2 separate regions of the Homo sapiens genome follow, and region 1 is linked to region 2. Evidence: fine-mapped expression QTL. Tissue or cell type: T cells. Region 2 holds a variant in brackets; the other region holds the start of a gene. All regions are shown on one strand. Distances are from middle to middle.

The links. PIP is the estimated chance that this variant, and not a neighbour inherited with it, causes the effect.
Region 1: it holds the start of ST3GAL5, and the variant in region 2 is fine-mapped to the expression of ST3GAL5 in T cells (TOPMed, PIP 0.92).

Annotation. Positions count from the first base shown.
Region 1 is chr2:85,884,649-85,892,817 of GRCh38, forward strand. It overlaps ST3GAL5 (ST3 beta-galactoside alpha-2,3-sialyltransferase 5), which reads right to left and starts at 4,342. Exons shown (of 7, transcript NM_003896.4): 1 at 4,176-4,342. The coding sequence starts at 4,257. It overlaps ST3GAL5-AS1 (ST3GAL5 antisense RNA 1), which reads left to right and starts at 4,632. Exons shown (of 3, transcript NR_110569.1): 1 at 4,632-5,155; 2 at 6,528-6,557; 3 at 7,043-7,604. RefSeq lists enhancers at 2,924-3,043, 3,054-3,183, 3,522-4,022, 3,714-3,793 and silencers at 3,964-4,083, 4,124-4,743.
Region 2 is chr2:85,850,553-85,858,552 of GRCh38, forward strand. The region is part of intron 3 of ST3GAL5 (ST3 beta-galactoside alpha-2,3-sialyltransferase 5); the gene reads right to left. Among named protein-coding and RNA genes, the nearest start is that of ST3GAL5, 34 kb to the right of the region's middle. RefSeq lists enhancers at 2,895-3,034, 3,045-3,144, 3,515-3,644. The variant T/A (reference allele first, on the strand shown) is at 3,339.

The DNA.
Region 1 (8,169 bases), 34 kb after region 2:
TTCTGCTAGAGTATAGATTAGAGATGAGAATAAGATGTTTATGAAAAGCAAAAAGGGGGTGAAGAACAGGGCAGAAGAGGATAAAAACACAGAGGCTGAGGAGGAGAGAGGAAGGCTGAGGAAGAAACGACACGTGTAACAGAAAAACTGCCCCTGCTCAGAACTCAATACACATAAGCTCTGAATTATGAAAAAGAGATGGTCTTAAAAACAGCCTTAACAGTCAAAAGACAGAAGTACTATTCCACCAAAGCAGACCTTTCTAATCTGTTATTTTTATCAAACTGATCCTATCCTATCACATGATACTTAACTGTTATAATCCCAGATGTTAAAAATTGAAGGAAAAAAGGAAAGAATTCATGGGTACAGGACTTGGTGAACCATCCAATAACTTAATCCTGAACATTTTTCCATGCTGTAATAACGGGACAACAAAAATGTCTTACATGGCCTCAAAAACCCAAATAAGAAATGGGCTTTTCCTCTAGGTCACGGATAATTTTTAGCAGAAATGCAGAGAAAGCAGGCCACAGAAGTAGACATAAAGTATAGGAAGTGCAGTATTATGAGAGCTCAGAGAGGAGTGGTTTGTTTGCAGCAACAAGGGTGGGAGTTGAGACCAAGCCAGGCAGTTTCACCAGAGAAACACTTCCCTTAGGTCAGAGGCTCTTGGGGAGCTAAGGGTTCCTCACAGCTCACCTTGCCCTGCTGCCTGACCCACTGGGAGACTGGGGCCTATAGGTGACCACACTTGCTGGCACCATACACAGCCAGGTAGAAACTGATCCTGACTGCCAGAAGGACTCCTGATTCCTTCCCCAGTCTCCTTAGAACTGTGGCCCTCATCAGCGAACAGTGAGGAACTACCAGTGTGATCATTTCAAAACTGGAATAAGGTCGGGCGCGGTGGCTCACGCCTGTAATCCCAGCACTTTGGGAGGCCGAGGTGGGCGGATCACGAGGTCAGGAAATCGAGACCATCCTGGCTAACACAGTGAAACCCTGTCTCTACTAAAAATACAAAAAATTAGCCGGGCGAGGTGGCAGGCGCCTGTAGTCCCAGCTACTCGGGAAGCTGAGGCAGAATGGCGTGAACCCCGGAGGCGGAGCCTGCAGTGAACTGAGATCGTGCCACTGCACTCCAGCCTGGGCGACGGCGAGACTCTGTCTCAAAAAAAAAAAAAAGAAAAAAAAAACTGGAGTAAAATAGCTGTGCCTGTGGCTCCTAAAACAGCAATACCATGCCTAGGTATGGACCTATCAGAAATGCAGACACATATGTACCAAAGCCAGACACTAGAGTGGTCACAGCGGCACTTTCTGTAACAGACAAATGCTGCAAACTGCCCAAATGTCCACTAACAATGCGTGACTATGTGGTATATTCACCCAATGGCCCCTATCACCAATGAGAGTGAACATGCTTCAACCATGGGCAGCATCATGAGTGATTCTCAGAAACTCAATGCTTAAGGAAAGAAGGCATACACTAGCCAGCCAGGCGCAATTGCTCACGCCTGTAATCTCAGCGCTTTGGGAGGGCAATGTGGGAGAATAGTTTGAGGCTAGGAGTTGCCAGAGACCAGCCTGGACAACACAGTGGGAGCCGTCTCTACAAAATAAAATAAAACAAATTAGCTGGGTCTGGTGGTGTGTGCCCGTAGTCTCAGCTACTGAGGAGGCTAAGGCAGGAGGATTGCTTGACTCCAGGAGTTCAAGGCTGATCCTGGGGGAGGCCGCGACTGGAGTACAACACAAGGGGAGCTCCCAGGGTCCCGGCCAGTTCTGTTTGTTGATCTAAGTGCTGAGTGCATGGGCATGTTCAGTCTGGAAAATTCATTGAGCAGGACACTTATGGTATGTCTACTTTCCTAGTATCTATGCTATACTTAAAAAAAAAAGAGGAAAAAAAAGTTTTGTCTGTCTGGTGTCCAGGTAAGACAAGCCTGGTAGTGTCCTTGAAGCCTCAAAGCTGATTTTTCTCCTGCTCCCTTACGCATTTCACTTGCTTCTCCTCTGCACGTGTGCTTAAGCTGGCTGTCTCCCGGGCGAGCCTGCGTGTCACCGTCATATTTATGGTTTCCTCCCACACCAGGCCTGTGATTCACCCCACTTTGGATGCCTTTGCTAACTTATGCCACCCACACTGATCCAGCCCTTGCTTTTCCTTCCTCAGCAGTTAGGCAGCTTGGAGCATCATTAACATGTGTATATTCCCAGTTGTTTTACTTCTGCCAGAGCTTCCCAGCAGACTAAAACCACGGAGCATGCCCTTCGGGAGTGATCTCAGTCCTCCATCGTGTCCACAGGCAGTGCGGATTAAATCGCTCCTCAGGAGCCAGGAGGGTGTGGAAGGTGAGCTTTATCCCTTCTCCCAGAAACTGCTGGCTCCAAGACACCCACCTCAGCCCTCCAGGACCTGGAATGGACTCCCACAGAGGACTCACCAACCTCTTTTCATTCATTGCCTCCCGAGGCCAACCTGCTAGATAAATTCCCCTCATTGCTGCAAATAGTCCCACAAGGCAAGCAGGGAAGAACTAGAGGAGCAAACCAAAGAACAAAGAGTGTGTTCTTATTCTGCCACGGATATATCCTTAACGTTCATCACCAATCTATTTTGATAACATGCAACAATTTACAATTTATGCCAAAATTATAAGAACTGTCCAAATAGTCGTAAATGTGAGCTCTCAAAATTTCTGCCTGTCAGCCCTCTCTCTTCCATGAGCCCCTTCATGCCTTCCTATCTCACCTGTTTCTTTTCTCGCCTAGACGAAGAAATGCTGATCATAACCCAGAATATCCAAGGGTCATTTCATCTTACAAAAACAGCAGCATCCATATAACAGGCACATGGGTAAAAGACTCAAGACATGCTGGTTATATGCTCTCGCAGTTCGTATGAATCTCTCCTTCTCCAAGTGACAGCTGGAATTCAGGTGCTTCTAGGCTCTGTTACTAGCAATGTTAGACACTCCTCGAAGCTGTCAAGCTCTCAGGATTACACAAGTGAAACCACAACCTGTCCTGACTGTATTCAAGTCTGTGCCCCTTCATGCAGCAGAAATGGATTCCTCTTCCACAGTTTCAGCAGCTGTATCCTTCCGTGGAAAAGGATTAGCAGCCATAAGCCCGGGGGAGGGCAGCTAAACACCAGAGGGCAGGAGATGAGTCTCCTTCCTCTCTGTGACACCCAGCACGGCCCTGCCACGAGGAGCAGGCAACCACTGGTGCCAGATGAAGCGCAGCACATAAAACCATTTTCCCCTTCAAATGAACGATGCCTAATTAAGCAAAAGCCGCATGCATGACTTAAGACATGAGGATATAAAATTCGTCTTCCGAGTCAGCTAGAGATTCTGCAGGATCCTCTACCCTCGTAAACGTATTTTTTTATGATTAGAAAAACCCGGGGCCTGGAAGGGACCTCGGCCATCGGCAGGGTAAGCTTCTCAGGAGAGACCATGAGCCCGAGCCCCACAGGGGGATCAGTGTCTGCCAAGGTCACCAAGCGGGTGTGAGGCAAGGGCAGGGCTCCTCGGGGATGCTCTCGGAAAACCCTGCGTTACTTACACACGCAAGGCGTACAATGAATGCACACCCGCGTCAAGCCACGGCTTACAATTCAGAAGAAATCAAAAGGTCGCCAAAACCTGTCTTCTCCGCAAGGCTGGCTGCAGAGAGGGTGCAGGGAAGGTCACCGGCAAATTTCTACCAGCGGCCCCACATCACGCCTCCCCGATGGATGCAGAGAGAGGTTTCAGGAGCTGCTAGTAACCTTGCAGGGGGTTCCCTAAGCCCATCCCAGGAAAACGAGTTAACTCGGCTCTGCTAACTCCGAAGCTTCCAGCAATGAATTAAATCCCGAGCTGCAGCGGAAAGCGGCGGGGAAAGGGCCACTGCGGCGGGACCCGACACCCGGCGGTCCGCCCCACCCTCTACCGCGTACACACCTGCGTGGGACCCCCCGCCCGGTCCACACGGCCCGGGACCACGACCCTCCGCCCGCGCCCCAGCCGGGCTCGCCTGAGGGTGTCGTGCCCTGGGCGCTGCCCGCGGGGTTCGAGGCGGAAACGCCGCGCCCAGCCGGCCCGGGAAGAGACAAGTCGCCGCCGCAGCCCCCAGCCCGCGGGCCCCCGCGACGCCGAGGAGGGGGCTGCGCCACGTACCTCGGCCGGCAGGTGCCGCCGCTGCCTCGGTCCGCGGCTGCAGGGGACGCCGCTCCGCGCAGCCCGCCGCCTTCGTCCGCATACTAATGAGGGGGCGCCGGCCGGCCGCCAGCCCGGTACCCCGCGCCCCCACCCGCCCCCAGCGCCGCTCTCGCGCCCATTCAGCTGGGGGCCGCCGCTCCCCCGCTCAGATGCGGAGGAGGGGCGCGTGGGCGGGGTCTGACGTCACGAGGACGCGGACGGCCAATCGGAGAGCACGATGCCTCCGCGGCGGCCCCCGCCCCCGGGCGCGCGGCCAGTCAGCCCTGCGGTGCGGTGGGCATTGCCAGAGCAGGGCGCCCCCTGCAGGGACGCACCCGGGGCGGGGGCCAGGCTGGGGCGAGCCCCCCTTGGTTCTGGAGAGGAAATGACATACAGTTTGTGAAAGCATAAATATTCGTGAAAATAAGAAAATTCAGGAAGGAAACAAAGCTTAAGGCAGTGATTGATAGGTTATTTCTTGGACACAGCTGAACGTATACTGTGCGCCTGCAACTTTCCGGTGGTTTCGGACCGGACTTCAGTGAAGCCAGTGAAGTCGGTCGACTTGCAGAACTTCCTTTCAGAGGGGCGTACACAGCACCGCGGCCGTGTGCCTGTGATCTCCTTCTGAGTTTGAAAAAGAAGATCCTAGACACCGAGCCAAATATGTTTGCATAAACCGGGAGACTTGTGGCTCTATTTTGTAACAGCTTGGCGCAGGGCAGCTGGTTTGGAGATGTCTCTGTTCTTCCCTTGGTGGGGGTGCCGGAAAAAATGTGCTGCCTGGGCGATCGAGGTTGGGGCAAAAGCGTTGCAAAGGAAAAGGTGGGAGGACTCTACTTTCACATTTCCCAAAAGAGTTTTACCATAAGACTATTTCTGGATTGTTCTAACGTGAGGATATTGGGAGCATTTTGAAAATACTGGAGGAAAAGCTGTCACTGGGCGATTTAAATCCGGTAAGTTGGCCAAGGCAGAGCAGCTGCTGGGGTCAGCGACAGCTGACCCTTGCAGCTGAGTATCTTGCCCTCTTAATCTTGGAGATCAGCCCAAGGCCCATGTGTTACAGGAAAGGGGTCCCGATCTAGACCCCAAGAGAGGGTTCTTCGATCTCACGCAAGAAACAATTCAGAGTAAGTCCACAGTGCAAAGTAAAAGCAAGTTTATTAAGAAAGTAAAGTGGTGGCTGGGCACAGTGGCTCACGCGTAATCCCAGCACTTTGGGAGGCTGAGACGGACAGATCACCTGATGTCAGGAGTTCAAGACCAGCTGGCCAACATGGCAAAACCCCGTCTCTACTAGAAATACAAATATTGGCCGGGCGTGGTGGCGCAAGCCTGTTGTCTCAGCTACTCACGGGGCTGAGGCAGGAGAATCGCTTGAACCCGGGAGGCAGAGGCTACAGTGAGCCGAGATCGCCACTGCACTCCAGCAGGGCATTCCTGAAAATAAGAGGAGGGACATATCCAACTAAGGTACAATGCTTGTAATGCTTGTATATATGGGCAGATGTCTTCTGCTACAAGGGTTTGTGATAAAGGATTAATTTTCCCTAATTACTATATTTTGCAATAATCAATATTATTATTTTTAAAGCAAAATTAGGAATGCCTTTGTTCTCCAGATATCGGGATATCTGGACTCTCTCAAGTCTGGGTCTGTTTAGTAAGCATTATTAATTTGTTCTCTTAACCATAAACACCTAGAGGCTAGGAATGCCTAGCTTTCAGGAAATGCAGCCTAGCAAGTCCCAGCCTCATTTTTCTAGCCCTCACTCAAAATGGAGGCGCTCTGGTTTGAACACTTCTGACACATGTGCTTGATGCAACACTCTTTACCTCTCTTTGTCTCCCCTGTCCTTCCCCTTCTCTTCCAGATTCCCCTTGTCGGCAAAGCCAGGCGCTGATAGCGTTATGGCTGCCATGAGAGTCAGCAGTATCCCAGCTTCCAAGGATGGGTGTAAGGTGGGGGTGAGGAAGAAAAGGAACTTGAAGCTGCCTCCTGTCCCAGAATCACAAGACATCTGTTAAGCCCTTACTACCTCATTCACTCCACTCACATTAGGTTGACCCACTTGGGCAGCAAGACAAGCAGGCCTGCAAACTTCCTTTTCTTCATCAGCCACAGAGACATCCTCAGCTATTATTCTGGATTAAGGCAGAGATCTCCAAACAGCAGACTAAGATCAGCCTCTAGATCTCAAAGCCTTACTGTTATCTCTCCAAGTCAGTGGCTGATCTCAGAGAAGCTTCTGAATAGTGACTAGCAAAGAGTCACTCAGGCTACTTACAAATCCAGGACAGCAGCGTTTTTTTTTTTTTCTTTTTTAGAGACAGATTCACTCTGTCATCCAAGCTGGAGTGCAGTGGCACGATCTTGGCTCACTGCAACCTCCACCTCCTGGGCTCAAGCAATCCTCCTACCTCAGCCTCCCAAGTAGCTGGAACTACAGGTACCCAACACCATGCCAGGCTAATTTCTAATTTTTTGTAGAGACAGCAGTCTCCCTCTGTTGCCCAGGCTGGCCTCAAACTCCTAGGCTCAAGTGTTCCTCCTGCCTGGGCCTCCCAAAGTGCTGGGATCACAGATGTGAGCCACTGCATGCAGCCAAAACCAGTTATTTTTTGGCTGGGCATGGTGGCTCGCACCTGTGATCCCAGCACTTTGGGAAGCCGAGGTGGGCAGATTACTTGAGGTCAGGAGTTTGAGACCAGCCTGGACAACATGGTGAAACCCTGTCTCTGCTAAAAGTACAAAAAATTAGCTGGGCATGGTGGCATGTGCCTGTAATCCCAGCTACTCAGGAGGCTGAGGCAGGAAAATTGCTTGAACCCAGGAGGCAGAGGTTGCAGTGAGCCGAGATCACGCTAGTGCACTCTAGCCTGGGTGACAGAGCGAAACTCTGTCTAAAAAAAAGAAGTTATTTTTTATCAATATATATTAACATGCAATGGATTTATTATTATTATTATTTTATTTATTTATTTTTTACTTGAGACAGAGTCTTGCTCTGCCACCCAGGCTGGAGTGCAATGGTACAATCATGGCTCACTGCAACCTCCACCTCCCAGGTTCAGGTGATTCTCCTGCCTTAGCCTCCAGAAGTAGCTGGGATTACAGGCACGTACCACCATGCCCAGCTAATATTTGTATTTTTAGTACAGATGGGGTTTCACCATGTTGGCCAGGCTGGTCAAGAACTCCGGACCTCAGGTGATCCACCCTCCTCAGCCTCCCAAAGTGCTGGGATTATAGGTGTGAACCACAATGCCCAGCCAGATTTATTATTTTAATGACTTAATAAATATTTTAAAATTTAAATATTTAAATTAAATTAAATATTTAAAAATTTCTCAGTTTTAATTTTTAATTTGGCAAATATCAAGAGAAAGACCATGTCAAAAAGATTCTTTGGGATCCTCAGTAATTTCTAGGTGTGTAAATTGATCCTGAGACCAGAGTTTGAGACTTACTGGTCTCAGCCACCCAGATAGCCCCATTGCCCCATCCTCCTTGCCACTAGGAATGGTTCATGGGTAGCCACAGGAACCACACTGATCCAATCAGAGGAAGTCTCAGGAATTTATTGGATGCTGGGGGAGAGATGCTTTCATGTTCTGCTAGACAAGAACTAGGCAGTAAGTAGCCTCAGAAGCTGTTGGTAAGACAGACATCTTGGACTACAAGAAGAGCTTATTTTAGGAAGAAAGTAATGCTGTGGGAAGCAGAAGACCACGGTTAGAAAGAAACCATTTCCTTTATGACATTTTTGAGTCACTAAATCAAACCAGTCCTGAAGTCCATCTTGCCTCCGTACATTTCACCTGTATGAGATAGTAAGTTCCTCTGTGGTTTCAACTAGCCAACCCCAGATGCCCCAACTGATTCGCTATGTACCTACTTATGCAACACAAGTTGCAATGATGAAATGAGGCTGGAAGGCAGAGAAGGGTCCAGGAGGAAAGTACCTAG
Region 2 (8,000 bases):
AAGCGGGACACACAGAGCGGCCACACACACTGCACATTCATCTCAAAACCCTAGGCCCGAAGGTCATGAATGGCAATTTTTAGAGACCTAAAGGCCTAACCCTCCACTAGAGAATCATATCCTAAGTATCTGGTTTTACAAATCTCCTAGGACAGAAAGGAACATCTGAGAAGTGGCAAGAGGGACCCGGAGAAGCTCACTGATGGCCACGGGACTAGAAAGAGGTGCGTGAGCGAGCTGGATGCTCGCCAGGCTGCCAGGTCTCCTCTTCAGAAGCTGCATCTGGAAAGGAGTGAAATTTCATTCCATTTCCATTCTCACCAAGAGGTTAATTTCAGGTTTCAAACTTAATTTTCTTCTTTTTTTTTCTTTTTTTTTTTTTGAGACAGAGTCTCGCTCTGTCACCCAGGCTGGAGTGCAGTGGCGCAATTTCAGCTCACTGCAACCTCTGCCTCCCAGTTTCAAGCCATTCTCCTGCCTCAGGTTCCTGAGTAGCTGGGATTACAGGCGTGCACTGACACACCCGGCTACTTTTTGTATTTTCAGTACAGACGGGGTTTCACCATGTTGGTCAGGCTGGTCTCAAACTCCTGACCTAGTGATCCACCTGCCTCCACCTTCCAAAGTTCTGGGATTATAGATGTGAGCCACCACGCCCAGCCCAAACTTAATTTTCTAGACTGTGGGTAGGGCACATTTCTCAGTAGTCACCTTCTGACTGTGACCCCTCCTGCGCCTAAGTGACAGTGGATGCAGTAGTAAATCCTGAGTGAGTTTCTACATGTCCTGGCAACGTCTAAAGCCACAGCAATTCCTTGTCCTCTTTTGTTTCAACTCGTTTAACAGATCTCCACTGATTGCCTGGAGACAGGGCTTTTTCTGTAGAGAGCTCACACAGAACTCCATCTCATAGCCACTCAGAACAGGAGGACCACATGGGCCATGTCCTCCACTCTGGGATGGTTTCTGTTCTTGCTTCAATGGTGCACAACCAGACATCATTGTCTTGGGGGCTTCCTCAGAGCTTGTCCCACATCTTTAAGTAAGTTGAACCGGCATCTGCTTCAGCTGCTCTCTTCCCCCTCCACTGCTTGCCCATAGCTCACAGCTCAGAAGAAAGTGCCTCAAGGCGAGTGCCGCACCTTCAGGAGCTGCAATGAAGAGAGGAAGCAGTGTGACTAGGCTGTGAGGACTCCAGAGCTCCCAGGAAGGCCTCAGAGGCGTCAGCTGGGGCCTGGGTGGCATTCATCCAGATGAGGCTCACTGGAAGCCAGGAGCTGGTGACTCTCTCGTAAAATACAAGAACTCCCGTTCGTCTTATATCCAGGGACAAAAATAAAGGTTTCAGTTTTTAACATCTTCCAGGCTGCGCTTGCAGGTTGCCCACAATTAAGACAAAGTAGACATCTGGTAGTGCCAATTGTTAATGCTGTGGCAGTGTGCCATAAAAACATCATGTGAAATTCACAGAAAGGTATTAAAAACAATCAAAGTAATTTTCCTCAGCAAAATCCCCACTTTCATTTCCACTCTGAAATCTTAAGGACAACCCTTCTCAGAAATACAAGTAAGTGGCATAATTCTTAGTAAAAGGCAATGTTCTATTGCACTTATTATTTTTTAAAAATCCGGAACAGGGCAGAGCATTCAGATTGAAAGAAAACTTGTGTCTGGCATTAATGAGATGTGGGAAGGAGCTCAATTCTGCCATGGATCACGTGATCTGGGGGCATCAGTGACCTTGTGGAACTTTCATTTCCCACACCTGTAAACTCTGGTGCTGGTCGCTTCTTCGCAGGTTGCTCTGATGCCCTAAGCATTTTGCCCAGTACCTGGCATGTGTGGAGACTTGTATGATATCACACAAGGACAATAACTGAGGGTCACGTTATTGACATATTTTACTCACATTTAAGTTATAACTCTTACCCAGTTAGAAGCAGAAAAAAATTTAAATAACCAAGTCATGGAAATAACACTACACTATAAACTCAACCAGTTGGTGGAAGCCTGGGGTGGGGTTGAGGGTGGGGACTGACTGCAGAGGGGCTCCGGGGAACTCGCTTGGGCCATGGGAATGTGCTAAAGCGGGATTGTGGTGACAGAGGCGTGGCTGCATAAGTTTTTAATACTCATCAAACAATGGGCTTCAAAGGATTAAATCTTATGTAGATTTCATCCCATCAACTGTTAGAAAAAAAAATAATCAGGAGATCTGGAGGCTGGACTCAGTTCTAGATTGATTTAACTAGCAGCGTCGTCTTTGTTAAAGCATTTCTCCCTAGGTCGAGGCTTCAGTTTTCTTACCTCTAAGATATCCCAGGAAGGCCTGGAAAGCGGGGAGCAGCACTAAGGAGAGAAAAGACTCGGTTTGAAGATGCTGGTGCCTGGGCTCACTGAATGCTTCAGCAGGGAGGGCCCTGCTTCCTTTAAAGGCACGGTGTAGGTCTGCAGAGTCCGAGAGAAGACGATGAAGAAGCGGCTGAGTCCATCTGGCCATAATTAACTGCACGCAATGCCATCCGCAGGGAGATAAGGTCTTTAGCTCTCAGAAAGGAGAGAGGGCCAAGTTCAAAATGCTGCTACTACACAGCCCAAACCGAAACTGACATCAACGTGCCCTCGTCTCTCTTAAAACATCTTTTGAGTGCAATTTCACATCTGAACCACACTTTCAAAGTGTCCAGGCATCCCTTCAGAGCCCACTGGTAGTCTTTTTAACAACTGGCACATTAAGGGACATATTTAAATAGAAAATACAAAACCCACAACTGCCACAGCCACACTTCCTCTGCTGCAGTAATGAAGGCGGGGACCAGCGTCACCAGACAATGCTCAAGTCTAGCAGGGCTGGCAGGGTCCCACTCACACTGTGGGCTGCTGAGTGGAACCAACAGAGCTAACAGGGCCCCACCCTTATGGCTCTGAGACCTTCTTCTGCCCATATACATCCACGATAATTCAAATTTGTCCACGTGCTCTTGTGGTAAGGATCAAATCTCCACTGACTGCCTGGAGACGGGATTTTCTTCATGGAGAGCTCACACAGAACTCCATGTCATAGCCACTCAGAACACGAGGACCACACGGGCCATGTCCTCCACTCTATTCTTGCTTCAGTGATGCACAAATTAAGGAGCTGCTTCGTGCTTAGTGTAGCATTCAAGGCCTTTTGCTATCTGGCCCTGTCTCATTTTCAGTCCCATATCCTGTGATCCCTCCTCCCCAAATCCTCAGTGATAGGCAACTCTTGCCATTCCTCTCATGTGCAAAGCATTCTGAGGCCTGCACTTCTGCACAAACCACCTCTTCTGCGTGGAAGGAAGCAGGATATCCTG[T/A]CAGGACCGTTTTGAAAAGTGGAGCATTTTAACAAGGTCAAAATGTTAAAAACCTACTTAAAAAAATTCTCTAGTAACACAATAAGACACCCTCAATTCCACCATAATTATAGCAGGCTTTCACTTTCTATTTTACTAGTTTCAAACTCACGGAGTTTTACAAACATGTTTGACTTACACAGCTGCCCCCCATTCCTTCCTCTTTCTCTATGAAAAATTACAGGGGACTTTCTCCTTTACTTATTTCCGTATTACTTGAATTTTTGGTGTTTTTTTTAAATAATTGAAAAAAGTAACCTTTTAGAAATCGCTCAGCACTGGGGTGACATGGTAGATGGACACTGTGGGCTGCTGCTCAGTTTTGCTTAAGTGGCTTTGGCTCCTTCTCCAGGCAGGTAGGTGTAGGACCAGGGAGGCCAACTCCCCCATCAGAAGTCCTCCCAACCCCCCTCGTCAGTGATTGGTCAGGAGTCCTCACTGAAGCCCATCAAGGAAGGGCATTGGCATCTATGAAGGCTACTATTGGTCCAGCCATGAGCTTAGGTCTAAAAATTGGCCCAGTAGCCTAATGAAAGGACTTACATTCCATGGTTCAGGGAGAAGGGGCAGGGAGCGGGTGCTGGGCTTTTCCCTGTCTACCAGTGGATGTTTAGGTTGAAGAGAACTATCAGTCCTGTTCCTCACATTAAACCTAAGGTGCATTACTGATGTACTCAAAGAATTACAAGTTATAACCGGATTTTCTGTACAATCTAGAGTTCACAGGTAATGGAAGATTACACTGTGATTCAAGTACTATCTCCCCTTCCCCCTGAAGTTGAATATATGTAAGTGCATATTAAGTAATGTAAGATGTTAAGCACACAGCCCCTGTCTCCCAAGACCTGGCCTGGAAAACAAGTGGGGAAGATGAACAGCTGAAATCCTACAATGATAAACATCAGGATTAAGGCATGAGGGGGCTCTCTCACACACACAGAGGGACGATCAGGGATAGCCTCTTAGAAGGGGTAACCGCTGAGCTGAGACTTGACTTAAAATACGAGTAACAGAAGGGCGAAGGGCAGGGAAAGGCTCTAGGCAGCAAAGAAAGAAAGAATGCAGCAAATAGAGGAAAGTTCTTTTCAACAAATGGTCCTGGGACAACTGGAGAACAACATGCAAAAGGATGACCTTGGACCCTGACCTCACACTGATATGGTTTGACTCTTTGTCCCCACCCAAATCTCATCTGGTAGCTCCCATAATTCCCATGTGTTGTGGGAAGGACCCAGTGGTAGATGACTGAATCATGGGGGCAGGTCTTTCCTGTGCCGTTCTTGTGGTAGTGAATGGGTCTCATGAGATCTGATGGTTTTAAAAATGGGAGTTTCCCTGCACAGTTTCTCTCTTTTGCCTGCTGCCATTCATGTAAGACGTGACTTGCTCCTCCTTGCCTTCTGCCATGATTGTGAGGCTTCCCCTGCCATGTGGAGTTGTAACTACAATTAAACCTCTTCTGTAAATTGCCCAGTCTTAGGTATGTCTTTATCAGTAGTGAAAATGGACTAATATACCATATACAAAAATTAATGCAAAACGAATCAAAGACCTAAATGTAAGAGGTAGTATGTTATAAACATACTAGAAGAAAACTTGGGACTAAACAATAGTTTCTTAGATATGACACCAAAAGCATAAATGACCAAAGGAAAAATAGGTAAATTGGGTTTCATCAGAATTAAAGACTTTTGTGCTAAAAATGATACCCTAAAGAAAGTGAAAAGACAACTTAGAGAGTGGAGAAAATACTTGGAAATCACATACCAGATATAGGGTACTGGTATCCAGAACACAGAAAGAACTCTTACAATTTAAGAATAAAAAGTCAAATAGCCCAATTAAAAATGGGCAAAGGATCTGAATGGGCATTCCTCCAAAGAAAACACACATACGGTCAATGAGAGCACATGGGAAAGATGCTCAGCATCATTAGCTATCAGCAAATCAAAACCACAATGAGATATCACTTAACATCTATCAGGATGACAGTAGTAAAAAAGGAAAGATAATAACAAATGTTGATAAAGATGCGGAGAAACTGAAACTCTGGTACCTTGCTTACAAGAATGTAAAATAATGCAACCATTTTGGAAAACAGCTTGGCAGTTCCTCAAAAAGCAAAACATAGTTACCATATGACCCAGCAACTATATTCCTAGTATATACATAAAAGAACTGAAAACAGGTACACAAATACTTACATACACATGTTCACAGCAGCATTATTCATAATAGCCAAAAGTGGACACAACCCAAATGTCCACTAACTGATGAATGGATAAACAAAATGAGGTATATCCATACAATGAGGTATTATCCAGAAATAATAATGAAGTACCGATACATGCTACAACATGGGTGTACCTTCAAAACATTATCCTAAGTGAAAGAATCCAGTCACAGGAGACCATGAAATGAATAACATGAAATGTCCATAATAGGCAAATCTATACAGACAGAAAGTAGATTACTGGTTGCCTAGGATTTGTGGGGAGGGGGAAATAGGGAGTGACTATGAATGGATATGGAGTTTCTTTTTGGGATACTAAAAACCTTCTAAACTTAGATCATGGTGATGGTTGCACAGTTCTGTAAATCACTAAAACCATAGTGTATTGCACAAAATCACTGCACTGTATCCCTTTTTTTTTTCTCAGTGTCTTGTTCTGTTCTGTTTTATGGGCTGGAGTGCAGTGGCATGATTATAGCTCACTGTAATCTCAAACTCCTGGGCGCAAGTGATCCTTCTGCCTTAGTCTCTGGAGTAGCTAAGACTACAGTTGTGAGACACCACACAAGGCTAATGTTTTTATTTTTAATAGAGATGATGTCTTGGTATGTTGCCCAGGCTGGTCTCAAACTCCTGGCCTCAAATGATCCTTCCTGCCTCGGCCTCCCAAAAAGCTGGGATTATAGACAGGAGCCACCATGCCTGGCTGTACTGTATGCTTTAAATGGGTGAACTATGTGGTGTGTTAATTATATCTCAATAAAAATGTTTTAAGGGCAGGGCATGGTGGCTCATGTCTATAATCCCAGCACTTTGGGAGGCTGAGGCAGGAGGATCACTTGAGTCACTTGAGTCCAGGAGTTTGCGACTAGCCTGGGAAACACGGTAAGACCCTGCCTCTACCAAAAAAAAAAAAAAAAAAAAAAAAAAAAAAATAGGCACGTATGGTGGTGCATGCTATAGTCCCAGCTACTCAGGAGGCTGAGGTGGGAGGATTGCTTGAGCCTGGGAAGTTGAGGCTGCAGTGAGCAATGATCGGGCCACTGCACTTCAGCCTGGGTGACAGCGTGAGGCCCTGCTGAAAAGAAAAGAAGCTGGGCTCAGTGGCTCATGCCTGTCATCCTAGCACTTTGGGAGGTTGAGGCGGGTGGATCACCCGAGGTCAGGGGTTTAAGACCAGCCTGGCCAACATGACAAAACCCCATCTCCATTAAAAATACAAAAATTAGCTGGGTGTGGTGGCACATGCCTGTAATCCCAGCTACTCGGGAGGCTGAGACAGGAGAATCACTTGAACCCAGGAGGTGGAGGTTGCAGTGAGCTGAGATCATGCCACTGCACACCAGCCTGGGAGACAGAGTGAGACTCCGTCTCAAAAAAAAAAAAAAAAAAGAGAAAAGGAAAGAAGAGAAGAGGTTTACCCAAGGACCTGTGAGGGGTTGAGTGTGCCTAAAATACATAGAGTTGGGACAATGGAGGTGGCACAAAAAGACTGGAGAGATCAGTAGGAACCAAGTCATGAACGGTCTTCTGGGCCAGACTAAGGAGTCTGGGTATTTTCCTGAAGGTAAAGGAGAGGCACCAAAGAGTTTTAAGGAGGGAAGCAATATATTAGATTCAAATTGTAGAACACGACTACTCCGGCCACAGTGGGGCATGGCTGGATGCAGGAAGGCAGGTGAGAAGACACACAACCAGGGAAACAGGAAGAGCAGGTGACTCTAAAGGGCAGCCCTCGCTCACTACACCTTTCCTTAGAATGCCACGTACTATGTATTTTTACAGACATAGTCCCTACTCTCAAGTAACTTATACTTTAGATGGCAGGATGAGAGGCTCGTATGAATTAGGATAATACCGATGGAATGTGGCAAGCTTCAGAGGAGCTTGGAAGTAGCAGTGAGGTTCAGTCTGAAAGTCACTGAGTTGGGGACTGGTTAGGCTGCATGCAGGTGTTCTTTGAGAGCCTACCGTTTGAGACAACTCCACCCAGAATTCAGAACTTTGAAAGCCCCAGGTTACGAAACCAGCCTCCATCTTCCAGTCAGGCACTGGCAAATTGCTGAGAACCACAGAATCTCAGACCTGGAAGGGATCAGAAAGGCCCCTGAGCCCCTCCCTGTCTAATGTCTGAATTCTACCTACAGGACCCCTGGCTTTTTTTTGAGACAGAGTTTCACTCTTGTCGCCCAGGCTGGAGTGCAATGGCACAGTCTTGGCTCACTGCAACCTCCCTGTCTTGGGTTCAAGTGATTCTCCTGCCTCAGCCTCCTGAGTAGCTGGGATTACAGGTGCCTGCCACCACGCCCAGCTAATTTCTGTATTTTTAGTAGAGACGGGGTTTCACCATGTTGGCCAGGCTGGTCTCGAACTCCTGACCTCATGATCCG